Linked DNA regions of Homo sapiens: all the other regions are linked to region 1. The links come from fine-mapping of genetic effects on gene expression. A gene starts in region 1. Each other region holds a variant in brackets. All regions are shown on one strand. Distances are between the middles of the regions.

Region 1 (10,688 bases):
ACTAAGGAATATTTCTCGTGACAGGAAATGCATGCTATTTTCTAGTCCACTGTCTTCTACTTCACTTTTAAAAATCCAGCGGAAAACCACTCAACGATGCTCAAATCCACTAGTAAGTGGCTGTCCATTCTGTGAACATGAGCTTAGAAAATCCCCAAGATACGAGTACTTCCAGTACTGATGATTTATGGCATTAACAAAGCTGTGATCCTGGTAGAGAGAGACAGAGACCCCGCCCCATCCTGTTCCCAGAATGGGGTGTCCTACCTGAATCACCGATTAGGAAACAAATTCTCTGCACATCTTTGCTATTGAAACGCCTACTCTGCAAGAGCCAGGGTTTGGAGATGAGCATGCCAAATACCGATTTTTCTAGAGACCTGCAACTTGCCTAACCCCATGCCTAATCCCAGGGAGATTTGGGGCAAGGGGCAGTGATGGTGGGGTGGCGGCACTTGGATGGGTTAAAACAAACACAGCAAAAATAAACACATAAAAGTCAGAAGAAACAAAGCTGTCTCCCTCCCTCTGTATGAATTTGGGTCACACGCATCACACCCAGATGGCCCGTGGCTTCCATTTCTAAGAGTTCAGAGAGAATTGCTTTCCCAAACCCCATGGTGATGCAGAAAAACGGCCCTCTGGACTCCCACAGTGGTGAATTGGAAACGTCTTTGCACTTTGCACAGCGTCACAGGGTTTTGGCCAAGGGAATACCTGCTAGCCATCAAGGGGTGGAAGCACGTGAGACCTACAGGTTAGATCCTGCGTGAAGTCACTCACATTATCTCATGAAGATAACAGGCACTGTAATGACGAGTTGAAAAACCAGGATACGGGCTGGGCATAGTGGCTCTTGCCTGGAATCCCAGCACTTTGGGAGGCTGAGGTGGGAGGATCACTTGAGCCCAGGAGTTCAAGACTAACCTGGGCAACACACAGAGACCTTGTCTCTATTTTTTCAAAAGCAACAACAACAAACCAGGACATGAAACAGCTCAGCAAACAAAAACCTGAATAAAACGCCACCATATTAACAGTGGTCGCCAGCCTTCACGATGTCATCTGCTCGTTTTTACAAGGAGCACCTACTTCTTTTGTAATCTGTGGACGAAGACAACTTTAAAAGCCTGCCATCCAAAGACACATTATCAAGTCTGGCTAAGGGAGTGCCAGATAAATGCACTCACTAGCTCATGCCGTGGTGTTAATGCCAGTTTGAACAGACAGGACCTGGAAATGCGCAGACACACTCCTCAATGTGCACACCTCATCTTTCAGGACCCTTGGCCCTTACTCCTCCTGACCATGTCACCACGGATGCCACAAAAACACCTGGTAGTGTGAAGTGCAGACAGAAAGGGGATCTTGGAGGGGGAGGGTGCCCTGTTTTGTTTTTCAAGAATCATCCTCAAAATCATTCAAGACAAACTCTGGAACCTCGGGTTCTGGTCCTGGCTGTGATCTCAGGCAAATCTCCTCTTCCCTGGGTCTTGGTCTCCCCAGTTGTCAAATAAGCAGAGTGGATTTTCTGATGGCTAAGATCCCTCTGGCCCCGATATTCTAAGATCTGAAGCTACGCATTCAGGTTTAAGGGCTGCTAAGTCTGATAAATCCAGGGCAAGAGAGAATGTGGAGACTTTAGGTTGCTCCGCCCAAGTAAACACCACAGACAGAAGGTGAGGACCAACCAGCAGTCTTGAGACGGGAGCTGAGGGGAGGAGTCGAGGGTCAGGGGAGCTCAGCAGAGACCCTCAGAGGGCTATCTCTGGTCAGCATCTTGGGGCTGTCTGGGAGGGACAGGGCTGTGTGGCCTGGTATTGGGAAACCAAACAGGTGGCTTGTTTCTTCCAAACAAACGGCCTGTTTTCTTTCTCAGGAGCAAGAGCTCCCAGGAGGGGTGGCCATGGCAGCGAGGGCTCAATCCAGAGGAAGGGAGAATAAAACATTGGCAGGGGAGGCTGCACCACCTGTCCAGGCTGGGGAGGAGCTCAACTCTATGAAGCCGCTTGAAAGACTGAGAGGTTGAGAAACCTGGGGCCCAAAACAGTCTTGGTCCCGAATGTGGCCAGGTCTCCTGGGTTAAAGTAAAGGGCCCTAGAAGGGAGTCAGGAGGGCTGGGTTCCAGTCCCAGTTCTGCTGCTGAACTGTTGTGTGTCCTTGGGTAAGTCCCATCCCCTCTCTGAGTTTTGTTTGTCAAATGAGAATGATGTCTCTGATGACCTGAAGGTCCCCTCCACCTGAGACATTCTAGGACCTTCCTTTTCCCTCCAAGCAAAGGGAGACTTGAAGCATGGAGAAGGATATTCTCACAGCTTTCGCTGCAAGAGGAGGATTCCTCCCAGCTTCAGAGCAGAAACAAAAGTGAAAGCAAAAGTCAGCAGCCCCCATACCACATCCCAAGTCAGAAGACACCTGAGCTTCTGAAACTTTCCCAGCACCGAGGGAGACAATGCTTCTCTTTTGCATGACTCCCACCTTAATTTGGGGCTGGGGGAAGAGAATCCACACTAAAGCTCCTCACACTCTGGCCTCTTCCAGCCCAAGAAGCCTGAGGGGTTTACAGCCAGGCCTGCAGAGGGAGGGAGGAACGTTGACCAGAAACACAACCTATTAAAACGGGAGCCCCAGAAGCTCCAGCTGGCCTCTGCCTCCAGCTTTCCCATCCCTCACGCAGACAGAGAAACTCCCAGGCCTCGTGACATCTGGAGCCAGCGAGCCGGAGAGTCGCAGCTGGAGGGGCTTGGGTCCTGCCAATACCCCAGACACTCACTCACTACTTCTCTCTGGCAGGGGACCAGGCTGGCAGTTTGGGCCTCATGTAGAACCCCAGAATCTTACCCTTGACCAACAGTCATGAGTGAAGGCCACACATTACTCTCTGCTTCCTGTATGGGCCTCTCCTCCAGCTCCCCCATTCATTCCCACTGCCCCCACCAACCCACAGGCCAGCCTCTCTCTCCTAGGAGTCTTCTCTAGGATCCTCGCCAACTTCCAGGCAGCCAGGATTATCTTCTTAACATATGGATGGGATCAGACGACTTCCCTGCTTAGAGAACTTGAATGAAAGGGACGTCTTTCTCCATGTTGTTCATCTTTGTTGAGCACCTAGAACAGCGCCTGGCCCACAGAAGGTGCTCGGCCAACATATGTTGAATGATTCCAAGAAAGCCCCCACCTGTCCAGTCCAGCTCACTCCGGACCTTCCATTCCCTTTACTTTTCCACACCCTCCACTGCCTGAGCACCTTCCCCAGCCCAGCACACCCCAGGCACTCTCCTGTCGCTGTGCCTTTGCCTGTGCTGTTCGATCTGCCCAGACACCCTTCCTCCCCTGTTCCCTGGGGGGACTCCAGTTCCCTGATGAATATTCTAATACTCTTTTCTTAGCAGGACCTCCTGAGTTATTTCCTTTCTTCTGTTCTCGTCTAAGCCCTGTGACATAACTTACTATAGAATACTTCATGTGCTAGGCATAAATACCCCACCTCGCCCTTGGAGATCATCATCCCATTTTACAGATGAAGAAGCTGAGGCTCAGAGAGGTCAGGTCACACAGCCAGCAAGTGGTGTGGCCTGACTGTATCGCCAATTCTGCAACACTTTTCATGAGTATCCCTGACTCCCTCACTAGGCTGGGGGCTCCCTGAGGCTTCTGGGCTCTGGGTCACTGGGGCAGGCCCCAGACACCCCATCAGAGAGCTGTCAGCTCCGAAGCCGTGAGGAGCAGGTTCACCACTAGCCTCCTCTCTCTTTCTTTGGCCTTTTCTCCCAGTCTGGGGGTACCTCTCAATTGGTGGAGTGAGATATTTGGAGGGGCAGGGGCTCTGTCCCAATAGGTCAGGATCCTCTTGTGACAGGTTTCCGGGGTGTGAAAGCTGTTCACGGTCCCAGGGCCAACAGTTCCCTAGACAAGCTGTTCTCCGGGTAACCCATTCAAAAGGAAAGCCAGAAGCCGGCCGGTCCTAGAGGGGAAAGCCTTCCACCCGCTGACTTACCTCCCGGTTCGGGTCCCTGCCCCGCCCACCTCGTCCCCGCCCACCCCACTCCGGCAGCGCCCGGGTTCCCAGCAGCCAGACCTCCCCTGCTGTTGGGAAGGACCCGCAGTCCCATGCACCGTCACAGGCACCTCGGAGCGCTGCGCAGGACACCCCACGGGCTGCTCCCTGGGGAAACCGTGGGGGAGGGGCCAGGTCTCTCGCCCCCACCGCTGGTTGGGAAAGAGACCATTATCCTGTAATGCAGACCAGGCGCGCCGGGCCAAGCGCCTCCCGTTTGTGCGCTGATTTGAGATCTGATTTGTACTCTGCTCTCCCCTAGGCCCGGTAACGTAACTTACCGCTGAGTGCTTGCTGGGTGCTGGGCATGAATGCCCCGCCGCACCCTGGGACGTTGTCATGTCAGTTTCACAGATGAAGAAACCGACGCGCTCAGGGAAGGACTCGAGTTTCAATCCACTTTGCTCATGCCCGATTCTTTACCCCCGTGTTTGCTTGTAGAGCGACACACACACATACACACACACGAATCTAAATCCCTAAAAGGCCCCGACTTCCATACAGTAAGGGATGCGCGAGCAAAGCGCCAAGGTGGTTTCCTGGGACCTACTGGGAAGTTCTGCTCCTAACCACGCGCTGAAAGCGCTTCTGGCGAAGCCAAGGGTTCGAAGCCCGCCGGGCGGATAGCACCTGTTCCCGCCAACAGGGGGCCCCCAAGGCCAGCTGCCTTCCCCAGCCGAGGCCAGCTGGCCAGGCGCGGTGCCCGGGAGGCGGGAGCGTCCCGCGCCGGCGGGGCGCGGCCGCAGAGGGTGCGGGGTGCGGAGTCCTCCCGGTGGTCGACCCCAGGCGGGAAGCGCTCGGCGGACAGACGGACGGACAGGAGACCCAAACGGGCCTCGGCCCCCTTACACGGCCCTGTGGGGAACCGACAGCGCGCCGCGGGAAGCAGCGGGCGCAAGGCGCGGCGGCTGAGACTCACCCGGGAGGCGGCGGGTCCGGCTCCGTCTCGGCTGGGCGGTCCGGGACTGCGGGCTTCGCGACCCCCGCGCCCCACCCGGGCGGCCTCCTCGGTGGGCGCCGCGATCGCGGGGCTGGGGTTCGGGGGATTCTTAGCCGAGGGAACGCAGTGGTGGAGAGGGCGCACTGCCCTCTCAGGGACCGGGTTGGGGACGCAGGAAGCGCGGCCTGGGAGCGCCGGCGTGCGGGAGGGAGGGACCGCGGGAGGCGGAGGGCGGTGCCGGCCAGGAGCGGCCTCCAGCCCGGAGAAGCACCGCCCACCGGCCGACCCTCCCTCCCGGCCCTCGGCACCACCCCCGGGCCCGAGGCGAGGGATCGCAGCTGAGCGAGGCGGGCACCCACTCCCCAGCGTATGCCGCTGGAGCGCGCTGAGCGTGTGCCGGGGGCTGGGCCTAAGTTCTCCCCAACCCTTGCCAGCCGAGTTGGATAAGAGGGGGTCGGGAGAAAATAGAGCCCTGATCCCCCCTCCTCCCTAGGGCCCAGAGAATCGGTGTGCATGCGTGTGTGCGCGCACGCGCGTGTGTGTGACGGGTGGTGGTCGGGGAATGTCTCAAGCTAGAAGTCCCAGGTTTTAGGGGTTTAAGTGGAGCTGGGAGACCCGCTTTCCTCCCACACCAGGCGCAGACGCCGAGGCACAGCTCCGCCAGCCGCCCCGCCTTTACCTGGCGGGATACTCACCTCTCCTCCTTCCTGGGGAGGCCACCGCCTCCCTCTCCCCCTTCTGCCCTGGGCTGGTTCCCAGCGAGGTGAGTGACCGGCACAAGTAGGGAAGGAGGAAGCGAGTTTTTAAAAACTGAGTCAGCTCACGCCCTCGGCCAGGGTCCCCACCCGATGCGTGGTCCCCAGGGCGCCCTCGGGATCGCACGCCCGAGTCCCGGCCCAGGTGGGGCCCATTCCGGGTTCTTGCGCGCGGGCAATGGATGGGGGCGCGCTGCACCGGGAGCCTGCCCTGCTGAGGGCTCATCCCCAGCTTTGCCGAGAACTTTCCCGGCGAGGCACCGGCTGGCGTTTTCCCAGCCTGCGAGTGGCAGGCGGGCAGCCAGTCTCTGCTCGGATCCACGGAGGCCCGGAGCCGCCACGGAGTTCTGGCTCCGGGGAGTGCAAACCCGAAGTCGGCGCGGAAGCCTCTCACCCGCGGCTCTGCCTCCGCCCCTTGGAGATCTGCCCTCGGAACTGCGTTGCTCTGGCGCCCGAACTAGGGTGGGCTGGTTTCAGCCAGACCGCCAAAAAACGTGGATGCTAAACACAGAGGGAAGAGCCAGCTCCCATTCCCTCTCTGAGCCTTAGATTTTTTTGAATTCCGAGAGAGGTCAGGCCGGGGTCCCCTTCTTGGGTGAGCGTCCAGCCCTTTGAAGTTCAAACACTGAGAAGCCGATAGGCAGCTGGCTGGCGTCACAGGATCGAGCCGAGGACTGAAGGCGCCTCCTACCGGGAATCCACCGCCTCCAGACGAAAATAGGCTGCAATCAAGTTCACTTCCAAAGGCGGAATTCATGGGTACATATGGTGTCCACGTGTGTACACCTGCAGAGTTGTAACATGCGGGCATTTCTCCCCTCAGCCCGCCATTCTGGCTTCTTAACTTGCACCCTAACAGCTCGACAGAACCTTGGCGTCCACAAAAAGGCAAGTTTGGGTCTGCCTTATGATTTGGGGGTGGGAAGGCATTTGGGGAAACAGTCTCCATGTCTATGACAGCAACTGCTATTCCTCACATCCTTGCTATGAACCAGGGGCGGGGTTACCACCCACATCCCCTGAACCATCTCATTTAATCCTCATAACCTAGGAGGCGGTTATTTGTTATGCCCACTTTATAGAAGAGAAGGCTGAGGCTTAAGGAGGTGAGGTCATTTTGCCCAGTGAAAACACAGCTGGGAAGTATCAGGATCTAGACCCAAGATGATCCACTCCAGAGCTTCTGCTCTCCCTCCCATAGCATAATTCCTCCTGTCTGCACATACTCTCCACCCTGAGAGAATGTTCACCTTGCCTGGCCACCTGCAAATGCGGAATAAACATTTGTTGGATGAATGAAAGCCCTAAATAATAACCCATGATTTTAGTGAATAGGGAGGACCCTTTGTGTAGGCAGGTACCTATAATAATATGCTCCCATTTAAGAGCTGTGCGTATTCATCCCAAAGTTTAGACAATGCATGTGGGGACCTTCCCAGGCTCCAAAGGAGTGACAGGAAACAGTCACGTAGCTCTCAGATAAGACCAGGAATCTGGTTTTCATTTGACTCTGCAAGATGGACTTTGGAGAGGCCTGGGGTGGGGGCGGGGGGTGATCATGTCAGAACAGCTGTCCCAGCTCCTAATCTGAAGACAAAGAGCTGCTGTACTTTTCCATGCCAGGGTCATCCCAGACCCGCCCCACTCTGCTGCAGACTCAACTGGGCAGGTCTTGTTTATCACAGGATATCATCTTCAGAGTGTTCCATTTAAGCAGGCTCACCCTGGCTGATCTGGGGAGAGACTGACGAAATTCTCAGGCAAAGCTGAGGCCCAGGCAAAACTGAAGAAGCTACCAAAGGAAGCATGCCTCTCCTTATCCTCCTCTCCTCCACAGCCCTCTCCCTCTACATGGTTAGTTTCTCTGAATCTTCCCTACCATTTATTGAACCCTGTGTTTCACGTGCACTGCATACATTGTGTTCTTTGGTTTTCAAAACAGCCCTAGAAGGAAGATTCTATTATTCTAGTTTTTCAGATGAGGCTGTTAAGACTCAGAGAAGTTAGGTACCTGGATCTGCTAGCAAGTGACAAAGTATTTGAATCTGGGGTCTTTGCAGGGCCCTTGCTCTAAATCACTAAGCTAGGAACCCCCTTCTGTGATAGGCAGAATAATGGCTGCCCAAAGATGTTCACAACCTGATCCCCAGAACTGGTTACTTTACGTGGCAAAAGGGACTTTGCAGATGGGATCAAGTTAAAGATGTTGGGACGGGGAGGTTATCCTTGATTTTCCTGGTGGGTCCAATGTTGTCAAAAGGGTTCCTACAAGAGGGAAGCGGGAGGGTCAGAGTTAGAGAGGGAGATGTGGTGATAGAAGTAGAGATCAGAATGATACAGTTGCTGGACAAGGGTCAGTAGCCAAGGAATGTGGGCAGCCTCTAGGAGCTAGAAAAGGAAAGGAATGGAGTGTCAGCCAGAGCATCCAGAAGGAGCTCTTGGCATCCACAAAAAGGCAAGTTTGGGTCTGCCTTATGATTTGAAGGTGGGAAGGCATTTGCAGATCCGTTTTGGACATCTGACCTCCAGAACTGTAAGAAGATAGTTCACTGTGTTGTTCTAAGCCATGAAGTTTGGGTCAATTTGTCACAGCAGCGGGAGGAAACTAATACATCCTGCAAACTCAGTCACCTAGGCAGATGTTCACTTCACCTGCTTTTTTGGCTAACTGTCCACTGTAAACTTCTGAAGAGGCACCATGATCTAGCCTACATCACGGATTTAGAAAGAAGGCAGGATTCCATCACCTTTGTCTTTGGTTTCTGAATCCTCTGCTATTTGTGAGTTGTGTGACCCTGGGCAGATGTCTTGTCCTCTCTGAGCCTCAGTTTCCTCATGTGTCAAAAAAAAATTATTAGCATTTCTATGCTAATAATACCTATTTTCCAGGACCAACTCGGGGATCAGGTGAACTAGTATGTGACAAAGTACCCAGTGTGGCCTGAACATGAGTTGTGGGAGCATTAGCCTGTCTAGTTCTGAAAGCCTGAATTCAAAGAGGAGAGGATGCTGTTCTGAGAATTCCCGTGGCATTACATTTTTATTCTTTCTGGCTGAATGGGTAAATAACGACAGTTTTAAAATATTCGACTGTCCCTGGTTAGTGACCAAGACCCCAGTCTGTCATGCTACTGACTTTCCAGGCACATCAATGAAAGTGAGGCTGGAAAATCAGCTTATAGAAATAGATCATCATGCAGAACAACTCACACATGTGCTCAGGAACAGAACGTCCAAGGGTTTTCATTGCTGATTAATTGTAACGGTGAAAAGTGGTCACCAACCTCAATGCCCAGCACTAGGAGCTATGCTAAGTAAATTGTGGCATAGACTCATGCTGGCACACTATGAAGTCACCAGAAAGAATGAGGTAGAGCTATCTGACATGGAAGAACGTCCAAGTTATATCATTCACCGAGAAAGGCACTAAATATGATGATACTACACAAACCACTTTTTTTATTTTTTATTTTTTTGAGACAGAGTGTCTGTCACCTAGGCTGGAGTGCAGTGGTGCAGAGGTTGCACTACAACCTCTGACTTCTCGGTTCAAGCAATTTTCCTGCCTCAGCCTCTCGAGTAGCTGGGATTACAGGCGTACACCACCACGCCCAGCTAATTTTTTGTATTTTTAGTAGAGATGGGGTTTCACAATGTTGGCCAGGCTGGTCTTGAACTCCTGACCTCAAGTGATCTACCCGCCTCAGCCTCCCAAAGTGCTGGGATTACAGGCATGAGCCACCATGCCTGGCTCACAAATGACTTTTTAAAAAGATGTAGACACACATACATATATTTGATTATGTACAGAAAGACTATGGGAGGAATCAAACCAAACAGGTTACCCTTAGAAACTGAGGGGGGGTGTGTGTGTGTTGGGGAGGTAATTTTATTTTTTAGTGAGAATGTGTTAATAATAAAGTTGGCTGGAAACCACCTGTATTGTCCACCAGGAGCATATCCTCCTATTATCTGTCCCTGTATCCTCCCTTGCTTGCTCTGTTCTCTGCCATCTGTCATTCTTTACCCTTGCTTGGTTCTGAGCAGGTCACTCTCTCTTCCCACTGACTTTTTTTTTCAGACAGGATCTTTCTCTGTCACCCAGGCTGTGGTGCAATGGCATAATCTCTGCTTACTGCAGCCTCCACTTCCTGGACTCGAGTGATTCTTCCATCTCAGCCTCCTGAGTAGCTGGGACTACAGGCATGCACCACCACACCTGGCTAAGTTTTAAATTTTAAATTTTTTTGTAGAGATGGGGGTCTTGCTACGTTACCCAGGCTGGTCTCAAAATCCTGGGCTTAAGTGATCCACCTGCCTTGGCCTCCCAAAGTGCTAGGATCACAGGTGTCAGCCACCGCGCCCAGCCCCCACTTACTCTTAATGTGGGCTTATTTCTAAACCTGTGAGGAGCTGAGCAGTGTCTCTGCTGTATGACTCTTGCCAAAGTCAGCAGTAAATCACGTATGTGCACTTTCAACCTGGCCTTTTCCTGAAACGGTGCACATTAGTCACCGGGAAGGGATGTGTCTTGCGTGTAGGTTTCACTGGTGATATACTGGCCCAGCCCCACTGAAGGCTGAATCAGGTCTGTGTGGCAGACAAATTGTGCTCACGTAGCGCAAAGCAAAATTGGATAGTTGGACCATTAGTTTAAATAAAACAGTTTTGTCCCGTTTGCTGAAAAATGTTGATTCTGGAAATGTGTTTCTATCTGAGTTACCAGTGTAACTGGACCTGTGTAGACAGCCCAGAATGAAGCTTCTGAGGACATCGTCGCATTGGGGTACAAGTTCTTGAGACCCCTGAGAACAGCCAGCTAGCAATTCTACCTCCCTATCACCCCATCTCCTCTTGTGCTCCAGCTTGTAGAAACTTCCCTCTAAGCCTCAGCATGATTGCAGTTCATCTGGCTGCTTCCTAACTGGTGTCCTGC
Region 2 (10,688 bases), 130 kb before region 1:
CCTCCTGAGAGTCCCTGAACTACAGCCATCCTGCTAAGCTACTCCCAAATGCCTGACCCCCAGAAACTGTGTAAGATAACGCATAGGGTTTTGGTTTGTTTTAGGGTGCTATATGTTAGGGTAATTGGTTATAAATTGGTAACTAATACACACCGTATGTTAATTTTACACAAAAAGACAAAAACTGTTGAACTCCAGTTAATGGTATACGTGCTAAATGTTTAGGGGGAAGTCTACAGCTGTAGGAAACTTATTTTAAAATGTATCTAAAATTAAGATGAATTAATGAATTCACAAAATGATTGATAGAGAGATATACAATAAGAGTATAGCAAAATGGGCCAGGCGTGGTTGGCTCACACCTGTAATCCCAGCACTTTGGAGGCCAAGGTGGGCAGATCACTTGAGGTCAGGAGTTTGAGACCAGCCTGGCCAACATGGCAAAACCTCGTCTCTACTGAAAATACAAAAATTAGCTGAACATGGTGGTGTGTGCCTGTAATCCCAGCTACTTGGGAGGCTGAGGCAGGAGAACCGCTTGAACCCAGAAGGTGAACTCCAGCTTGGGCAATAGAGTGAGACTCTGTCTCAAGAAAAAAAAAAAAAAAAAAGAGTATAGTAAAATGTTAATGGTAGATTTAGGTGGGGAGGGGGTCACTGTAAAATTATTTTTACTTTGCTGTATGTTTAAAAAATGTTCATATTAAGGCTGGGCGCAGTGGCTCATGTCTGTAATCCCAGCACTTTGGGAGGCCGAGGTGGGCGGATCACAAGGTCAGGAGATCAAGACCATCCTGGCTAACATGGTGAAACCCCATCTCTACTAAAAATACAAAAACAAAAAATTAGCCGGGTATAGTGGCAGGAGCCTGTAGTCCCAGCTACTCGGGAGGCTGAGGCAGGAGAATGGCGTGAACCCAGAAGGCGGAGCTTGCAGTGCGCTGAGATGGCACCACTGCCGAAATCCTGCCACTGCACTCCAGCCTGGGCAACAGAGGGAGACTCCGTCCAAAAAAAAAAAAAAAAGTTCATATTAAAATGTTGGGGGAAAATGGCTGAGTCATTTCTCAGTGTGGGTGGTAGGTATGTGGTGGTGCATTTGATGATGACGGTGATGATGATGTAAACCGTGGAGACACATGGCCTTTACTCTTCAGCTTGCGTATGTCACAGTAATAATGATTTTAGTGACTGAGGAAGGTGACTACATGAATGGTCTTGAGCAAGACCGGAAAAAGATATGGAAGCCGCTGGGAGATGTCTGGGGACTCCGAAGGGCCTGGGGCTGGGACAAAGAGGACAGAAAATGGGACCTTGATGCCATAGGCTAGGGAGGAACTCTGGGAACCATGCCTGGGGACTAAACTGACCAGCTCTTCTGCTGGTGAGGCTGCTGAGGCCAAGAGGACAGTGACAGATGGGAAGTTTCCTCCCCAAGTGCCATGAGGCTTTCAAGGGGGTAGTGGGGAAGGAAGGACACCCTGAAGGTTGTGTGTGTCCCAGAGTGACCAGGTTGTGAGTGGGCTGTCACCGAGCTCACCAGCCTTTAAATGGGACTGAAAAACATTAGATTAGACGGGACTGAATACACTTCCTCGGGAGAAGTCATCTTCCTGGTAAGTGTCACTCTCCTCTGACCTGTAAAATGGTGGTAAAATATTTTAAAAGCTCCTAGGGCTGTTGGGGGCAAAGGGGATTGCAATTACTAATATTTTTGCACAACTGAGTCAAAGTGTGTTGACGTGATCCCATGACACACTCATATGTACACACACACAGAGGCCACACCCACTGCAGGTGCCCTGGTGTGTGTATACGGACACAGCACAGAGGCTGGAGGGATACGCAGCAGAGAGTCAATAGGGAGACCCTGGGGATAAGGATTACGGCTGATTTTTTAACTGTTTTCTTACTTTCTGCTTATCCTGAATTTATTTTCATTTTTTACAATTGAATATGTTCTACTTTTAGAATCAGAAAGTAAACCAAAACCAAGACCCATCCACATGGCCGTGAACCACCCCCAAGCCACCAATGGCAGCCCTGACGCATACCTTGCTTGATGACGGGTGGCTTGCGGGCGTCGTCCACCACGAACGAGAACATCTCCTTGTTGGCGCTCACAGGCCGCCTGTGGGAGGCCGGCAGGACCACGGTGGGTCTGGGAAAGGCCTGGGACCAGCTCCTTTGCATCGGTGCTGGCTGGACACCTTGGTGGAAGGGGATATGTGATGGTGGGGGGGCCTGGTTTGGCTGCTGTGTGGCACGAGGTGGCTGTGGCCCTGGCCATGGTGCTGGGCCCCTCATCCATGGGAAAGAGACCTGCAGGGGCAGACAAGGGTCAGGGGAGGTTATGACCGGCTGGGATGGTCTCCATTTCTTTGTCCCAGCCACAGCATTGCTGCCCAAGGTCTTGGTTTATGAGTCACTTCCGGTCGGGCAGGGTGGCACACAGCTATAATCCCAACACTTTGGGAGGCCAAAGTGGGAGGCTAGCTAGCTTGAGTTCAGGAGTTCAAGACCAGCCTGGACAACATGGCAAAACCCTGCCTCACCAAAAATTCAAAAATTAGCTGGGCCTTGTGGCCTATGCCTGTAGTCCCAGCTACTTGAGAGGCTGAGGTGGGAGGATCACCTGAGCCTAGGAAGTAGAGGCTGCAGTGAGCTGTGATAGCACCACTGCACTCCATCCTGGGCGACAGAATGAGACTCTGTCTCAAAAATAAACAAACAAAAAAACAATGAGTCACTTCCCCCAGGAAGCCTTCCTGGACTCTCCTCAAGTTTGGGATGGGGGTCCTTGCCTGGACCACACGGCACACGATCACACCACCATTGAGTGAGTGCATGCTTTACCCAGGCATCTTGCCGAAAGAGTCACCTGCATTAACTCATTTAATACACTCAACACTCTGTGATATCAACACTCGGAGGACACAGGCCAGGCAAGAACAAGGGACTCTGAACACCCACAGACGTGGTATTGATCTGCTGAGTCAGGAGAATGTCCCCTCTAAGGGATTAGGGACTTTTCATCTACCTTACCACTGTATCCTCAGCCCCTAGAATAAATGCTTGGCACATACCTAGTAGGTCCTCAAATGTTGGTCAAAATAACAGAACAAGCCAATCACTGAGATTCCAGCCCAGCTCCCTGGGACTCCACAGCCTTTTCTCTTTCTGTCCATACTGTGGGTCCCTCTATCCCTCAAAGTTCAGAGCTCTGGGATTGCAGGGACACTGACTGTCTGATTAGCCTTTGCTTTTCCACACCAGCACAGCTGATTCTGGCAGAGGCCCCGGGGAAGATGCTCCAGCTGCTTTCAGTGGAGAGCATGTCAAAATCCATCTAACCGTGGATGAGCAAACGTGGAGTGGTGCTGACACCTGGCTTTTGCCGTGGATTAATGCTTTAGTGGTGGTTTCTCCCTGGTGCCTAGTGGTTGAAGGTGGCACTGATGAGCACTATCACTTATTGCACCGAGCTTATTGATTCCTCACCATGACCCTTTGTGTGAGGGTTCTCCTTATTCCTGTTAGAAGTGAGGCTTGGAGAGGTTAAGGGATTTACCCAGCACAGGCAGTGGTGGACAGGGAACTGGGATCAAGATCTGATGGCCTCTCCTTCTTCTCTCTCTCTCTCTTTCCCCTCCTCTGTCTCCCAATTGTCTTGGCAGAAATAATGCTTTCCAGGTAAGAGCTAAATTCAAAGGTTTGCTTCCTAGAATAGAACTCATCCCTATTTTCCCAGGGCTCATGGTTCTCCTTCTGTAGCCCAGAGAGAAGATGAGCTCAGACACACACAATGAGGAAAAGGACAGAATGCTTCCAAAATCAGAGCTCCAGCAGACAGCACTTCCTAGAACTTCAGCTGGGTTTCATTGAAAAGGAGGGCTCTCCACTCAGGATCCTAATCTCCAAGCTGCAGTCTGTCTACAGCTGCTCAGGGATCCTATGCATTCCCCCTAAGGCTCTTTCTTGGAGTCAGTGAGGAGTGTTCTGGGAAATCTGGCACCAAACTCCGATCACCTGGTGATACATGGTTTGGCTGTGCCCCACCCAAATCTCATCTTGAACTGTAGTTCCCAAAATCCCCTTAGGACGGACTGGGAGGGACCTGGTGGGAGGTAATGGAATCATGGGGGCAGTTACCTCCATGCTGCTCTCGTGATAATGAGTGACTTCTTGTAAGATCTGATGGTTTTATAATGGGCTTTCCCCACCCCCTTGCTCTGCACTTCTCCTTGCTGCCGCCATGTGAGGAAGGACA[C/T]GTTTGCTTCCCCTTCTGCCATGATTGTAAGTTTCCTGAGGCCTCCCCAGCCCTGGGGAACTGTGAGTCAATTAAACCTGTTCGTTTTTAAATTACACAGTCTCTGGTATGTCCTTATAGCAGTGTGAGAATGGACTAATACATCTGGGGACACCTGGCCAGGCATTCAAATGACACTGGCCCACTTGAAGTCTGTTTTCAGGAGTGGGTCTGGGCCGAGTTCCAGAACTCTGTTACCTTACGTGTAGTTTCCCATTTCTCTCCACTGTCAACATCTCAGCCTCTCCACCTACCCTCTTTTCCATTCTTTGGTTTCAGAAGCTGAGCCACTGTGCCCCTGCCCTGGGCTGACTTCTCCGTCCATCATGTCCTTCCCCATCCTCAGGGCTGTCTTGCCTCACTCATTCCCATGACCTTTTCCTATGGGTTTAATAAGTACTCATTGAATGAATGGGCTGAAGATGACAGCGGGCAAACTCCAATGCGTTTTACTCCAGCCTTCTGGAACACAAAGGTAGAGAGTATTGGGTGTGGTGGAGGAATCTACTTTCATGCTAGGACATTCAGTAGGCAGGGCTCTAAGTTAAGGGTGCCTCATGCCAACTAACTGCACAGGTGCTAATGGGAGTGAGCGTGTCTCCTGTCTCAAGGGTAACACTTCTGCAGTGGCCAGGCCAGAACCCACTCAGCATCTTTTGGAGATTGTGGGTAAATCTCCCTCCCTCTCTCGGCCAATTGTTGTGGGTGGGGCTAAGCAACAAATCACATTCAGTGGCCATAGTGATTGGCCAGGGGTGGGGCATGTGATCCAATCAGAGCCAAGGAGACTAGGCTGGACACCAGAATCTCTAGCCACAGAGAACTGGGGACTTGAGAATGTAGCCAGCACCAAGGGGTGCAGCCCAGACGTGGAGAGAGGGAAGGTGGTTTTCTTTTCTCCATTTTTTTTGAAACAGCGTCTCACTCTGTCATCCAGGCTGGAGTGCAGTGGTGCAATCACAGCTCACTACAGCCTAACCTTCCGGGCTCAGGTGATCCTCCTGCCTCAGCCTCCTAAGTAGCTTGGACTATAGACGCAGGCCACAAGGCCCAGCTAAATTTTGTATTTTTTGTAGAAATGGGGTTTTGCCATGTTGTGCAGGCTAGTCACAAACTCCTGGGCTGAAGTGATCCTCCTGCCTCAGCCTCCAACAGTGCTGGGATTACAGGCATGAGCCCCAACACCTGGTCTGGTTTTTGTTTAATTGTAAAAAAATACATAACAAAATTCTCCATCTTAACCATTTTAGGTGTACAGTTCAGTATTTTTAAGTATAGTCTAATGGCTGTGAAACAGATCTCTAGAACTTTTTCATCTTGCAAAAGTGAAAATATATTCTCATTAAATAACTCTCCCTTCTCCTCTCCTCAGAGCCGCTGGTAACCACCATTCCCCTTCTATTTCTATGAATTTAAATACTCTGTCCCTCATATAAGTGGATTCATACAACATTTGTCCTTTTGTGACTGGTTTATTTCACTTAGCACAATGTCCTTAGGATTCACCCATGTTGTAGCATGTGTCAGAATGTCCTTCCTTTTCATGGCTGAATAATATTCCATTGCATGGACAGATCACATTTTATTTATCCATTCATCTGTCCATGGACACTTGGGCTGCATTCACCTCTTGGCTATTGTGCATAATGAACAAACAGAGAAGCTGGTTTTGAGCCCTGGCTCGCGTTGCACCCTGCACTAACTGCTCAGTACTGTGAGGCTAGTTTGAGCTGGTTTTGTCACTTGTAGCCCCCACAGTGCTAATGAGAGGGTCTCTAAAGGGGCCAGTGCATGATGTGTAAATGCAGCAAAGACTGCAATCAGCTCTTTCAGTTAAAAAAAAAAAGTTTTATTTTGTTATTTATTTATTTATTTATGGAGATGGAATTTTGCTCTTGTCACCCAGGCTGGAGTGCAGTGGCGTGATCTCGGCTCACTGCAACCTCCGCCTCCTGGGTTCCAGCGATTCTCCTGCCTCAGCCTCCCAAGTAGCTGGCATTATAGGCATGTGCCACCACGCCCAGCTAATTTTTTGTATTTTTAGTAGAGACAGAGTTTCACCATGTTGGCCAGGCTGGTCTTCAACCCCTGACCTCAGATGATCCACCCGCCTTGGCCTCCCAAAGTGCTGGGATTACAGGCATGAGCCACAGCGCCCGGCATTGTTTGTTTTTTGAAAGCATGTTGATTTAGGGTGGCTTTAGTTGGAAGGTTAATGTCAGTCTTCTCTACTTAACAGGCCTACTCTATCATAAGCAAGGTCAAGGTTTTCTCAGAAATTGCTGCTGGTAACTACAAGGAAACAGTGAGGAGGATAAACAAACATAAAAAAAAGACTCCTGAAAAACTGGCTCCTGGCTGAGCTCACATTAGAATGTACATAGAGTTTGGGATCAAGGTCAGTTATCAACAAGTCTGGCTTAGAAATATTAGTTAAAAAATACTTGCTAGTGCCTTCTTTCTTTCACTCTCTTTCTTTCTTTCTTTCCTCCTCTTTCTTTCTCTCTGACCATATGGTGTGTGGCGTGGTGGTTTTTTCTTTGTTTATTTTTGAGGCCGCATGTGCTTTTCCTGATCTCTCCCACACTGTCTAAAATAGCAGGCTGCCAACCACCTGGACCACACCCACGGCTGAATTTCTATCAGCTTGAATAAACACCCAACCAGTAATGTACTCGAGAACTCCAAATCCATTGTTTCCGGATGATCTCCTTGTTTCTTGTGTTATTACGCTAACATCTGCTTCTGACCCTGTCAAGGCTTCAGGGTGAGAAGGACACCCTAAAACGCCAAGGGAGTTTGCCCAGAGTCCTACAGGACCCATGCATTCTTCCAGGAAGCCCTGGAGGCTGTGGACAAGGTGGGGAAGTAGACCTTGCCCTTGGAGCATCTGTCATGTTTTCTGCTATCTGCAATTTTTTTTTTTTTTTTTTGAGATGGAGTCTCGCTCTGTCGCCCAGGCTGGAGTGCAGTGGCGCAATCTCAGCTCACTGCAAGCTCCGCCTCACGGGTTCATGCCATTCTCCTGCCTCAGCTTCCCGAGTAGCTGGGACTACAGGCGCCCACCACCATGCCCGGCTAATTTTTGTATTTTTAGTAGAGACAGGGTTTCACCGTATTAGCCAGGATGGTCTCGATCTCCTAACCTCGTGATCCGCCCGCCTCGGCCTCCCAAAGTGCTGGGATTACCGGCGTGAGCCGCTGTGCCTGGCCTCCAATTCTTACCACTTGGCTTTGAACCACCAAGGAGAGAAGGCTCTAGGTGCTAGGCTGTGCTGTGCCCTTTGTATATGTGGCCCCATCTAATCACGAGAATAACTCTGGGGTAGGGGAAGCATTTTTACCCACATTTTGTGCATTAAAGGAGCAGAAGCTCAGTGAGGTTCAGAGACTTGCCCCAGGTCCTGAAGCCTGGAAGTGGTGATGCTGTCTGACTCCAAACTCTGTGCCCCTGGAGCTTCCAGGTCATTTGAAGTCATGATTTGCACTTGCTTTCCATACTTGCAAAAGGATCTTAGATGATTGGCTAATGAAGAATAGATTTTCTGAGTTAAAAAATGAAAATGAGAAATAGATGGTGTGAAAATCCCCAAGATGGTGCATGGACAGGATTGATGTGTGGACAGGATTTTCCAGGAACGTTATAGGTTCCCTCCTGCAAGTCTGAGTCACAGGGTATGTGCAGCACCCTGGATGCCACTCAGAGAACTGCAGTCTCCCCCCAGGCAGGGCTGTAGCTGGCTCACTGCTGTGCCAGAGGAGAGCTGGGGCCTGTTGGTGCTGGCTCATGAGAGCCGATGAGTAAATGTTGAGAATTCTGTGAGCTGGCTGATAAACACAGCCATTAAAAAATAAATTATATATACTTACAATTAAATTATACCAGAAACAACAGTAATAAATACTTAAAACTTAGCCTCCTAATTATTTTACTATATTTCATGATAATCTGTGCTCTTACAGTTATTCTTCCTACTGCGTCTGTGTGTTGGCAGTGCTGTAGAGTGATGTGCTGCTACCCAGCTCTCTGTGGCTCTGTGTTAGTGAAGCTTGAAATTGGCCAGGATGGTGAGGTAAGAGGTGGGACTCAATTCTGGAGGTTTGGCTCAGACACCAGACCAAATTGAGGACCAGCTAAAACAGGGCCGCAGTGGAAGCAGCTTTTCATAAGACACGCCCACCAGTGTGCCATGTCAGTTTCGCATTGCCATGGCAACACCCAAAAGGTACCACCCCTTTCCATGGCAATGACCCAACTACCTGAAAGGTAATACCCTTTTCCTGGAAATTTCTGCATAAACCACCCCTTCGTTTCTGTGTAATTAAATGTGGATATGAATATGACTGCAGAATTGTCTTTGAGCTGCTACTCTGGGCGCACTGCCCATGGGGTAGCCCTGCTGAGCAAGTAGCAGCCCCGCTCCTGCCACTGTGCACTGTTGCTTCCATAAAAGGTGCTGTCTCACACTGCTGGTTTGCCCTTGAATTCTTTCCTGGGCAAAGCCAAGAACCCTCCCTGGCTAAGTCCCAATTTTGGGGCTTGCCTATTCTGCATTAATGGGAGTATTTACACCACAGAAATCAGGGAATGTTACAAATCAGGGATTGATTTTTTGTTTTGTTGCTTGTCTATTCTTAGGAAGGTGTTGGATAAAATATTAGTAATACAGATGAGATTTAAAAGTGTTTTATGTCTGTAGCCATCACATTATGAGTAGCACAAAAGATATGGAGGAAATTTTCTTCTGATATTCAAAAACTATTATCCAATAGTTTCTTCTGGTATTCATAAACTATGATAGCAAAGAAGGTGCTCATGTCATTGATGAACATGTGAGGTTCCAATACAAATCTTTCTCATTTCACTTTCGTCTTACTCACAAAGGTAAACAAATATATCCACCAGTATTCCGGTTGGAAACATTCATCAGTTGCTACCATAAGTTGGCTAGGGATACAAGAGTTTGGCAAAAATCAATAAAAACCCTCTGTGAGAATCAATGGCTCTATGGAATTTATGATAAATTTGCCATAAAGAGTCCTGCATATTTTGTTATTATTTATAAAGAATGTGCTACACATTCTTTGTGTCAGTAAGCTTTATACTATACCTGCATACTTTACTTTTTCAGACACTCATCAGCATAGCACTGGCTGGACCCAGTGCCCAGTGAAGGGCCTGGCACACACTCTAGGTGCCTGCTGACCGAACTGAATTGAACAATTGGCAAACAGAGCCAAAGTTAAAAAATACCCTTCAGCTGATTCTGGGGCTGGGGCAGGGAGAATACACTATGAGCCTGGGGCATCTTGTAACAGCAGAAAGTGAGTAAGTGCTCAAAAACAGAAGGTGCGGGCCCTGTTAGAGGGATAAGCACCAACCCAAAAGCGCTCCAGTGGCCAAGGCTAGGACAATATGAGCTACAAAATAAATAACATCAGGTGGATTATAGCACAGAGAATCAAATAAAGACAGAGGAGTCCGTACTGATATAGATACATGAATGAGTAAATAATTCAATGGCAGAGAAGAGACACTTCCTTACAGAAGAATGTAACACACATAAGTAATCCCCAACCAGGAGGTGGAGCTGAGTCTTAATCAATGCCCCCTTCCTCCCCTCTCCTTTTTTTTTTTTTTTTTTTTTTTTGAGACAGTGTCTCACTCTGTCACCCAGGCTGGAGTGCAGTAGCGCGATTTTAGCTCACTGCAACCTCCGTCTCCTGGGTTCAAGCGATTTTTATGACTCAGCCTCCCGAGGAGCTAGGATTACAGGCATGCACCACCACACCTGGCTAATTTTTTGTATTTTTAGTAGAGACGGGGTTTTGCCATGTTGGTCAGACTGGTGTCAAACTCCTGGCCCCAAGTGATCCACCCACCTTGACTTCCCAAAGTGCCAGAATTACAGGTGTGAGCCACCATGCCTGGCCAGGTTATTTAATTAAAAAACAAAAACAAAACTCTTTTAAGGGACCTTTGAGTTACCAGAAAAAAATAATACAAAATCCACATGGAACCACTAATGTCGCTTATTCATACAGGTAGTCCTCTAGGTCTACTTTCAGCCTCTACTTCCTCTGATCTTACTCAATTTTACCCTAATAACTACACAATTACAAGGACAGGAAGGGGCAAGAAAGAAGGGGGAAAGGAGGCACACTGATCCCAGCAGAGAGCAGGAACTGACTGCCAGACCCTAAAACGCAGACAGAAGAGCCCCAGGGCAGCAGAGGGTGCTATGTGCGGCCCAGGAAGACAGCCTTCTCCATCTCAACAGCCCCTGGCGGGTGCCAGGATTCAAAATGGGGCAATAATTCTAAGTCTCCAAGAAAAGGATCAATTATGTCTAGGATTTTCCATTCCAGAAATTGGGAT
Region 3 (10,688 bases), 86 kb before region 1:
GTTGAAATTTGCTCCTCAGTGTTGGAGGTGGGGCCTGGCGGGAGGTGCTTGGATCATGCGGGCGAATCCCTCATGGATGGCTTGGTGCTGTTCCTGTAGGGTGCATGAGTTCTCACTCTATCAGTTTCCTAAAGAGCTGATTGTTAGAAAGAGCCTGGCACCTCCCCCTCGCTCACTCTCACTTCCTCTCTCATCATGTGATCTCTGCACATGCAGGCGCTACTTTCTGCCAGGAGTGGAAGCAGCCTGAGACCCTCACCAGAGGCAGATGCTGGCACCATGCTTCTTGTACAACCTGCAGAACTGTGAGCCAAATAAACCTCTTTTCTGGATAAATGACACAGCCTCAGGTATTACTTGATAGCAACACAAATGGACTAATACATCACTTATCATCAACTCACATACTATTTCTTTATTTATTTATGTTATTTATTGTGTCTCCCTCCCTGACCCCTGGTAGAATCTAAACTCCATGAAAGCAGGAATTTCTTTTTTCATGTTTTGTTTGCTGCTGTGCCACCAGTCCCTAGAACAATGTCTGAATGAATAAATATGCAGGGGGAAGCCCCTGCCACCCTTCTGAAGCCCGGCCTCCTGTCCTCTGAGGACTGCTGGGCTGACCTGTCCTCGCCCCAGGATGTCGGCTTCTCTAGTCCCCTGCCCAGGCCTGAACACCACCTCCATCCCTACCACCACCCCTCCATGCTTGTCTTTGGTCAAACTCTTGTCATTAACATGAACCCAGGACACAAACTTGCTATCAGACAGACCCCAGTGAAACCCAGGCTGGCCATGAGCTGGAACAGCCCATGCCCCTCACCAGGCTTTGAGAGATCATCTGTTGCTGTTAGCTGATATCTCAATGAAAAACAAAAAATCCTAAACTGAGAGCAAAGCTGACACTCAGAATCAGTGGAGCCGAAGTTGCCAAATCTTAATTGGATCCTCTGTCCCTCAGGATGCCACTGTTATCTCAAGGGTGTGCAAAGTTCTTGAAACCCAATTCCGTATCATCCATTTTCATTTCAAAAACAGAAAATCAAATACCCAATAACTTAGGGTTTTATGATATAATTTCCTGGGCTGAGTAAGAGAGTTGTACATTGCAATTAAACAGTGATGCGGCATTAAAAATACTGTCCCTGAAAAAAAAAAATAGATGTTTCTAGATTACTTGTGCTTCTTGGCAGTGCCTACAGTTAACCTTTTATTGAACTCTTGGTGACGACGAAGCCCATATTGTAGGAAATAAGGCTCAGAGACAGGGAGAAATCTGCCTAAAGTCACACAGCTAGAAAATCTGGCAGGATTTGAATCGAGATGAATGTGACAAGGAAGGTATTTCCCCTGGGGAACTACAGGTGACAGCTGTCACAATCACAAGATGCCACTTACTCACAACTGCTTTCTCTCACTTCTGAGCAGCCTGCACTCTTGTCTGTCCAAAGGTTCAGGCAGTGCCCAGGGCAGGGAGTGAAGGGGGCATAAGCCCAGAGGAGGCAGCTTAGGCCTGCCACCCACATTACCTGCTGACATTGGGCACTAGGCTTCGTTCCTGCAGAACTTCTGCCCCCGTAAAATCTCATTCCTTCCCAGCCACCTTCTCTGGGCTGTTCTTGCCTGGGGAGAGCCTAACCCTGTGCTCCATCCTCAGAGAACTGTGTGATGTTTCTCCTGCTGCCCTTGCATTCCAACATGAAATGAATGCTGGCTTCAGGCCCCAGCCGCGGCCAGGAGAGGTGTGGAGGCTTCCTCAGCCTCTATGGCATGAAAGAGAGCCAGAGAAAGAGCAAGAACAAGAGAGTAAAGAGTGCAGGAAATAGCCAAGCTGTTGCGCAGGGTGACGGATGACAGAGAGCAGAGGGCCCACTAGAGACTCCACGGCCCATTAGTAACCTGACCATATAAGCTTAGAAAGTACAGATTTTTATATACAGACCTACACACAGAGACTCATGAAAATAATTTCAAACCATGGAGAGAATAACTGGCAACTGAGGCTTTCTGCAGCCATCCTTGCCTTTTCCCGTGGCAGAAAATGAGAAAATATGGAGCTTCGTCTCATGTCGACTCTTTCATGCTGGTTTGGAGCATTCAGTTATCTTGCAAATCATTTTTCAAAGTCAGTTCCCCTTGGTTCCTTGCGCTTTGCTGTGGGGGGGTCTGTCTGTACCATCCGTTCAAAAACTGCAAAGTGTGCTGGCCCCACCTGTCCTGGGCCTGGTTTTTGTTGTATTTTGTTTGTGCCTCACTTCCCTCACCTGTAAAATGGGTATACAACAATCCATTTTATTGAAAGGATTAAATGGGTTAAGACGTATGAAACAATGGATCAGTGGCTGGTACAACTGAATGGCTCTATGAGTGTTTACGATTATTGCCTGTTTTCTTTTTCTCTGATGCTGTGCGAAGAGAGCCCCAATCTCAACCCAGGTCACAAACACTCTGGAGAAACTTTGATTTGCATCAAGACTCAGTCCTACTCCAGAACAAACCTGATCTCTGGATGACTAGTCTCATATTATCTGGCCGGCTGCTCTGAGACCTTTCTATATGTGGATATGGATATAAGAGATAGGATGTGCTCCTTCCTCTAGTCACAACTAGAGGTGATTCTTGGGAACCCAGCAGTCTCTATGGGGTGGCACCTGCTGGACAACTCCATAAATTCTACTTCCAGGCATGTGGGCAAACCTTCACTATATTTTTTTGAGTGACAGTGAACCTTTATGAATGTGGTTAACAAATTCAGCTCATATTTATTAAAGCTAACAAGGTACCAACCACCATGTCATGCACAGTTTTATTTAGTTCTTAGCCCAACTCATTATACAGAAAGAGAAATTGAGGCACAGAAAAGTCAAGTAACTTAACCAGTTACAAATCTTGCACATGGTGGTTCTGGAATTCAAACTCTGGCTGCCAGATTACAAAGTGCTGTACTTTTTGTAAACTTTTTTTTTTTTTTTTTTTTTTAGATGGAGTCTTGCTCTGTTGCCCAGGCTGGAGTGCAGTGGTGCGATCTCGGCTCACTGCAACCTCCTCCTCCCGGGTTCAAGCGATTCTCCTGCTTCAGCCGCCTGAGTAGCTGGGACTACAGCCACACGCCACCATGCCCGGCTACTTTTTGTATTTTTAGTAGAGACGGGGTTTCACCATGTTGGCCAGGCTGGTCTCGATCTCCTGACCTCGTGATCCACCCGCCTCAGCTTCCCAGAGTGCTGGGATTAGAGGCGTGAGCCACTGCACCCGGCCTTTTTGTAAACTTTTTATCGAAGATAATATACATATTGAAAATATACATTTTGTCTCAGGTCATAATTGCACTTTATAGCATTACAAATGGGCTGAGACACCATTTGAATTTTTACTAAGTGTACTCACCCACCTAACCAGAATCCAGATCAAGAAGCAAAACATCACCAGCACTCCTAGAAGTCTCCCTGTGACCCCTTCCAGTCATGACCCACCCCCTGGGGTAGCCCCTATCCTGACTGCTAATGTCATAGATTCGTTCTGGGTTTTTTTTGTTTGTTTGTTTTTTTGTTGTTTGTTTTTTTTGAGACAAGACTTTTGCTCTTATCACCCAGGGTAGAGTGCCATGATATGATCTCACTGCAACCTCTGCCTCCCGTGTTCAAGTGATTCTCCTACCTCAGCCTCCCAAGTAGCTGGGATTACAGGCACCTGCTACCATGCCCAGCTAATTTTTGTATTTTAATATAGGTGGGGTTTCACAATGTTGGTCCGGAAGTCGAACTCCTGACCTCAGGTGATCCACCCGCCTCACCTCCCACAGTGCTGGGATTATAGGCGTGAGCCACTGCGCCTGGCCAGTTCTGTTTGTTTTTGAACTTTATGTAAATGGGATCCTACAAATTCCATCTTCTGTCTGGTTTCTTTCGCTTGACGTTATGTTTGGGAGATGTCTTTTCATCTCCCAAAGTCAAGCATGTCTCTTCAAGTAGCTGTGGTTCATTCATTCTCATTGCTCTGTCGTATTCCATTGTATTGGTTATCAATTGCTGCTTAACAAACTACCACAAACTTAGCAGCTCAAAACAACCCACATTTATCATCTCACAGATTCTGTGGGTCAGGAATTGGGCAGGGCTCAGCACGGTCCTGTGCTTTAGGGTCTCACAGGCTGCAATCAAGGAGCTGGCCAAGCTGGGATCTCATCTGAGCCTCAACTGGGGATAAATCTGCATCTGCTTTCTTTCTTTCTTTCTTTTTTTTTTTTTTTTTTTTGAGATAGAGTCTCGCTCTGTCAGCCTGGCTGGAGTGCAGTGGCATGATCTTGGCTCACTGCAACCTCTGCCTCCCAGGTTCAAGCGATTCTTCTGCCTCAGCCTCCCGAGTAGCTGGGACTACAGGCAAGTGCCACCACCCCTGGCTAATTTTTGTGTTTTTAGTGGAGAAGGGGTTTCACCATATTGGCCAGGCTGATCTCAAACTCCTGACCTTGTGATCCACCCTCCTCGGCCTCCCAAAGTGCTGGGATTACAGGCATGAGCCACCACGCCCGGCCCGATCTGCTTTCTTTTTTCTTTTTCTTTCTTTTTTTTTTTTTTTTTGAGACAGGGTCTCTCCTGTTGTCCAGGCTGGGAGTGCAGTGATGTGATCGTAACTCACTGCAGCCTTGATTTCCCAGGCTCAAGTGTCCCTCCCACCTCAGCCTCCTGAGTAGCTGGGACCACAGCCATGTACCACTAAGCCTATTTTTTTAATTTTTATTTTTAATAGAGATGAGATCTCACTATGTTGCCCAGGCTTGTCTTGAACTCCCGGGCTCAAGCGATCCTCCCACCTTGGACTACCAAAGTGCTGAGATTACAGGCATGAGCCACTACACCTGGCTGGATCCAGTTTCAAGCTCACATTGTTATTGGTAAGATTCGTTTTTTTGAGGGTATCAGAAAGAGAGCCTCAGCTCCTTGCTGGGTATTAGCTGAGCTCACCCTCAGTTTCTTGCCATGTGGGCCTTTCTGGAAGTTGGCTTGCCTCATCAAAGTCAGTAAGAGTCAGTAGACAGAGTCTGCGACTCTGGACCCCCAGTAGACTCTCAATAGAGAGATGGAAGTTATAATCTTATGTAACATAATCACAGAAATTACATCCCATCACCTTTGCTGTATTCTACAGCTTAAAATAAGTTACAGGTCCTGCCCCGACTCAAGGGAGAGGATACCACAGAGGTGTGAACACCAGAGGTAATTGGGCGCCACTGTGTATGTCCGTTGGTATGCATATGTGCACATGTCT[A/G]TTAGATATAGACCTAGGAATAGAGGTGCTGAGTTGCAGATTCAGCAGATGTTCAGCTTTAAAAGATTCTGACAAACATTTTTCCAAAGCGCTGGTACCAATCTACACCCCCCAGCAGTGCATGAATACTTGAGTCGCAGCACATGCCTTCAAATATTACTCTCCCCTCTCTACTTACAGAAGGAGTTTGACCAGGAGTTCCTTGGAACAGGAGGTCCTAAACCTGGCCCCATGTCAGAATCACTGTTCCTGGGCTGTACCTCCAGACTTTCTGATTGTTGGATGGCTGGGATATAACCTGGAAGCTACACTCCATGTGGTGAAGGTTCTTTGTTGTTCTTTTTGTTTTTCTTTTGAGACAGAGTCTCGCTCTGTCACTCAGGCTGAAGTGCAGTGGCACAGTCTCGGCTCACTGTGACCTCCGCCTCCCAGGTTCAAGCGATTCCCCTGCCTCAGCCTCCCAAGTAGCTGGAACCACAGGCATGCACCACCACATCTGGCTAATTTGTTGTATTTTTAGTAGAGACGGGGTTTCACCATGTTGGCCAGGCTGGTCTCAAACTCCTGACCTCAAGTGATCCGCCCACCTCGGCCTCTCAAAGTGCTGGGATTACAGGCATGGCCCAGTGCACCCGGCCATCCTTTTCTTGTTCACCCAAGCATCCCTGGTGCTCAGAGCAGTACCTGACATGCAGCCAACATTCAATAAGGATTTAAATAAATGAATGAGTTTAGGGGCTGAGCATGGTAGCTCATGCCTGTAATCCCAGCACTTTGGGAGGCTGAGGTGAGAGGATCATGTCAGCCCAGGAGTTTGAACCAGCATAGGCAACATAGACAGACCTTGCTTTTACAAAAAATAAAAAAGTTAGCTGGATATGGTGGCACACACTTGTAGTCTCAGCTACTCTGGAGGCTGAGGCAGGAGGATTGCATCAGCCCAGGAGTTCAAGGCTGCAGTGAGCTATGATCATGCCACTGCACTCCTGCCTGGGTGACTTAGTGAGACCCCCGTCTCTTAAAGTAAATGAATGAAGGAGTTTAGGACTATTGTCCAAGAAGACCTACTGGTGGCCTCAGGGAAGGTGTGAACCACTGAAATTGGGAGGAAGCTTTGATGTGTCTGGGCCTATGTGTATTTTTCTGGAAAGAGGGCCCAGAGCCTTAACCAGACTTCTCCCCAGCAAAGGTTAAGAGCCTCTTTGATTGGACGTGGTCTGGGGTAGTTGATTTATCCTATAAAGAAACAGTTGGGCCTGGGGAAGGAGGCACAGGGGCTGTGTACAAGGCTCTGTGGTGCTTGGCAGGGTTTAGGAAGTGAGAAGAGAGACAGTCTCTGCCTGGGGTGGCTTATAAGCTGACACCCCTGCTCACTTTGTCCTTTGACTTATGGTGGCTCTTTTGGCACATCTAGCCACTGCTTGGCCTCCTGTGCCCTCCCTTGTGTCTGTTTATTGAATAGCAAATTCCAGAAGGCCTTGGTGGCCCTGAGTTTCCATCAACAGCAAGCCAACATGATTCCTACCTTTTGAGAAAGCTGCTTCCAATCAACAGCAGGCCTCCCTGTTGGTCTAGTTTGAGATGACCTCAGCCCTTGTCACCTCTCTGGGTTTCTGGAGGTTTTGTAGCATCTCACTGCCATCTGCATTCTCTTCTCATTTCAACAGTGCTCCTTTTTTTTTTTTTTTTTTTCCTTGAGATGGAGTCTCACTCTATTGCCCAGGCTGGAGTGCAGTGGTGCAGTCTCGGCTCACTATAACTTCTGCCTCCCGGGTTCAAGCAATTCTCCTGCCTCAGCCTCCTGAGTAGCTGGGGTTACAGGTGTGCGCCACCATGCCTGTCTAATTTTTATATTTTTAGTAGAGACAGGGTTTTACCAGGGGTCAGGCTGGTCTCGGACTCCTGACGTCGTGATCTGCCCATGTCAGCCTCCCAAAGTGCTGGGATTACAGGCATGAGCCACCGCGCCTGGCCAACAGTGCTCCTATCTTAGGCATTTTGCTTTTGTTTCAGGTCATCCCCATCGCTCGCTGCTGATCTTCCTTTCTGAGCTGATCAATCCCCTCACGCTGGACATTTCTTCTCAGGTTTCCTCTGAATCATTTTATTTGGTCTAAACATGTCCAGTTTTTCTGCCTTCCTTACAGCACTCAACACAGACTCTCTCTTTTCTCGAGAACAACTGTTCTTTTCTTTCTGATACTTTACCCAAATCCTCACCTTTCACCGTGTTTTCTGACCTCTCCTAAGAACTGATTGTTTTTTGAAACTTAAGTCTCAAAGATTGTCCCTTCTAATCTGGCTCTGAATTTGAATCGTTGTCAAGAAACAAGGGGGACAGTAATGTTCCTGGGTCACTAGGATTCTCAGTAGAAGGGCCGAGTGCTCACCAGGGGCTGAGGGGCTGGGGTTGGAGAGGGAGGGACGTGCTTCCACGTGGGGTGGAGCTTGTGGGGTCAGGAAGGGCTTTGAGAAAAAGGAATCACTTGACCTGGGTCTTGAAGGATGGGTAGGATTTCAGGAGGGAGAGAAGGAAGAGAAAGGCATTGCAGGAGGAAGGAGCAGTGGGAACAAGAGCTGGAAGATGGGGAATGAGGGAGGCTACGCAACCGTGGGACAGAGGGAGGCAGGGCCAGGTGCTGAGACTGCAAACTGAAGGCCACAGTCAGCCTCCATGTTTCTTTGGCTTTCACAGTGTGTTAAAATACTTTCAACTAGTTGATGGAGGATACAGCCTCTTTCTGTGGAGTGATAAAGAGCCTGTATTAGTCCATGCTTATGCTGCTATAAAGAGCTGCCTGAGACTGGGTAATTTATGAAGGAAAGAGGTTTAATTGACTCACAGTTCTGCAGGGCAAGGGAGGCCTCAGGAAACTTACGATCATGGTGGAAGGGGAAGCAAACGCGTCCCTCTTAACATGGCGGCAGCAAGGAGCAGTGCCAAGCAAAAGGGGAAAGCCCCTTATAAAACCATCACGTCTCCAAGAACTCACTCACTGTCAAGAGAACAGCACGAGGGTAACCGCCCTCATGACTCAATTACCTCCCACTGGGTCCCTTCCACGACATGTGTGGATTATGGGAACTACAATTCAAGATGAGATTTGGTTGCAGACACAGCCAAACCATATCAGAGCCCAGTTCAAACTAGCTTCAGCATGAAAGCAAATTAACTGGTTACCGTAAATGAAAAGTCTGCAGGGCTCAAGTGATGTCATCAGACCTCAGTCTCTCTCTGGCTCCTCAGCAATACTTTTGACCACGTGGATCCAACCTCAGACAGAATCTCTGTATAATGGTCCCAGAAAGACTGCTGCAGCTCCAGTCCTTACATCTTCTCAGCTTTGAATCCCAAGGGGATGAGAGAGAATTTTTTCCTAAGATTCTCCCAAAGGCCTCATGGCTTCTCATTTTCTCTGATTGACTCACAGGCCCGTTTCTAAGCCAATTAGTGTGGTCCGGGGGACTGCTGTGCTCTGATTGGCCAAGCTTGAGTCACATGCCCATCCCTGCAGCCGGAGATGGAGTCAACTCAACCAGGAAGAGACTGAGACTGGGCTGAGAACAGGAAAGGGGGTGGTCCCCAAAGGGGAATCATACATAACACCGTAATATTTTAGAAGAAAGGTGAATTGATATTGGGTGGCAGAAGCTTCAGGTGTCTCCTGCAGTGGCTAACGTACAAATCACGTTGACTTACTTTACAATTTGGATTTATGTCTTTTCTGGGGAAATTGGAACATCAGGCAATACTTGGGCTCTGTTCCTGCACACAGAGCAACAATCTGTGAGGCGTGTGGAGAGGCTGCCGCCTCCAGGTACAGCCTGTGTCCTCCTTGTCCGCCGCGCTTATTCTTATTCCTTCTCTGTTCTATAACTGCTTGAGTTTTTACCCCTGATGTATTTTGATTATGTGGATCTGTTTATCCTACCAGAATGGAAGTGCTAAAAGTACAGGGGTCAAGTAGTTCTCCCTGTGTTCCCACAAAGTTCTGAGGTCAAATGCCTGGCCGTTAAAAAAATTCAACTTTTAGCTGGGCATAGTGGCTCACGCCTGTAATCCCAGCACTTTGGGAAGCCGAGGCCGGCGGCTCACTTGAGGTCAGGAGTTCAAATCCAGCCTGGCCAACATGGTGAAATGTCTCTACTAAAAATAAAGAAATTAATCGGGCGTGGTGGCGGGTGCCTGTAATCCCAGCTACTCTGGAGGCCGAGGCATGAGAATCGCTTGAACCCGGGAGGCAGAGGTTCCAGTGAGCTGAGATCACACCACTGCACTCTAGCCTGAGCGACAGAGTGAGACTCTGCCTCAAAAAAAAAAAAAAAAAATTCAACTTTTATTTTAGATACAGAGGGTAAATGTGCAGGTTTGTTACATGGGCACATTGCACCCAGGTAGTGAGTATAGTATCAAATAGGTACTTTTTCAACCCACTCCCCCACCTCCTTTCCCCTCAAGTAGTCTGCAGTGTTGAGTGTTCCCATGTTTATGCTCATGTGGGCTCAATGTTTAGCTCCCCCTTCTAAGTGAGAATATGCGGTATTTGGTTTTCTGTTCCTTTGTTAATTTACTTAGGATAATGGCCTCTAGCTGCAACCATGTTGCTGTAAAGGACATGATCTCATTCTTTCTTATGGCTACGTAGTATTCTGTAGTGTATATGTGCCACATTTTCCTTATCCAATCCACCATTGATGGGCACCTAAGTTGATTCCATGTCTTTGCTATTGTGAATAGTGCTGCGATGAACGTAGGAGCGTATGTGTCTTTTTGGTAAAATGGTCTTTTTCTTTTTGGGTATATCCTGGCAATGGGATTGCTGGGTCAAATGGTAACTCTGTTTTAAGTTCTTCGAGAAATCTCCAAACTGCTTTCCACAGTGGTGGAACTAATTTACATTCCCACCAACTGTGTATAAGCATTCCCTTTTCTCAACATCCTCTACAGCTTCTGGTTTTTGTTTGTTTGTTTTTTTGACTTCTTAGTAATAGCCATTCTGACTGTTGTGAGATGGTATCTCGTTGTGGTTTTGATTTGCATTTCTCTCATGATTACAGATGATGAGCCTGGCCATTTTTGATCATCTCATTCCTTGCTCATTTTTAAATCCTTCTTTTAAAAACTATTTAATACAAAGTAGAATCAGTATCTGGGAATTCCAACACCTGATGTCCTTGGGGTGCGAGGAAGTGTCTCAATCTACTGTTTGTTCTTTCTGCTCACTCTTGCTCATACTGACTTGTTTCTTGGAGGGTTAATAATTTGAATGTGATCTCAGTGTTGATTGAAATTGATCTGCGGGAGTCCTGAGGAGTCTGATTTCTGGCTGCGTTCCTCTAGGAATGATTTTTGTTTGTTTCATTTGGATGCCAGGGCTGCTACCAACCTGTGATCCCTTACATTTACTTCTTCAGCTTGG

The links. PIP is the estimated chance that this variant, and not a neighbour inherited with it, causes the effect.
Region 2: its variant is the best candidate, but not a certain one, in a credible set for the expression of TMEM51 in monocytes after LPS (Fairfax 2014, PIP 0.87).
Region 3: its variant is the best candidate, but not a certain one, in a credible set for the expression of TMEM51 in monocytes after LPS (Fairfax 2014, PIP 0.79).

The regions. Positions count from the first base shown.
Region 1 is chr1:15,148,243-15,158,930 of GRCh38, reverse strand. It overlaps TMEM51 (transmembrane protein 51), which reads right to left and starts at 5,184. Exons shown (of 4, transcript NM_001136218.2): 1 at 4,977-5,184. It overlaps TMEM51-AS1 (TMEM51 antisense RNA 1), which reads left to right and starts at 6,467. Exons shown (of 5, transcript NR_027136.1): 1 at 6,467-6,640. RefSeq lists enhancers at 3,679-4,340, 4,472-4,561, 4,341-5,002 and silencers at 4,712-4,891, 4,982-5,031, 5,092-5,361.
Region 2 is chr1:15,281,033-15,291,720 of GRCh38, reverse strand. FHAD1 (forkhead associated phosphopeptide binding domain 1) reads right to left here. Exons shown (of 34, transcript NM_001391957.1): 4 at 2,055-2,322. LOC124903853 (a long non-coding RNA gene) reads left to right here. Exons shown (of 2, transcript XR_007065482.1): 1 at 1-70; 2 at 1,972-4,365. Among named protein-coding and RNA genes, the nearest start is that of FHAD1, 39 kb to the right of the region's middle. RefSeq lists an enhancer at 1,623-2,822. The variant C/T (reference allele first, on the strand shown) is at 4,271.
Region 3 is chr1:15,234,523-15,245,210 of GRCh38, reverse strand. It overlaps a transcript of FHAD1 not described here. Among named protein-coding and RNA genes, the nearest start is that of FHAD1, 7.4 kb to the left of the region's middle. The variant A/G (reference allele first, on the strand shown) is at 5,269.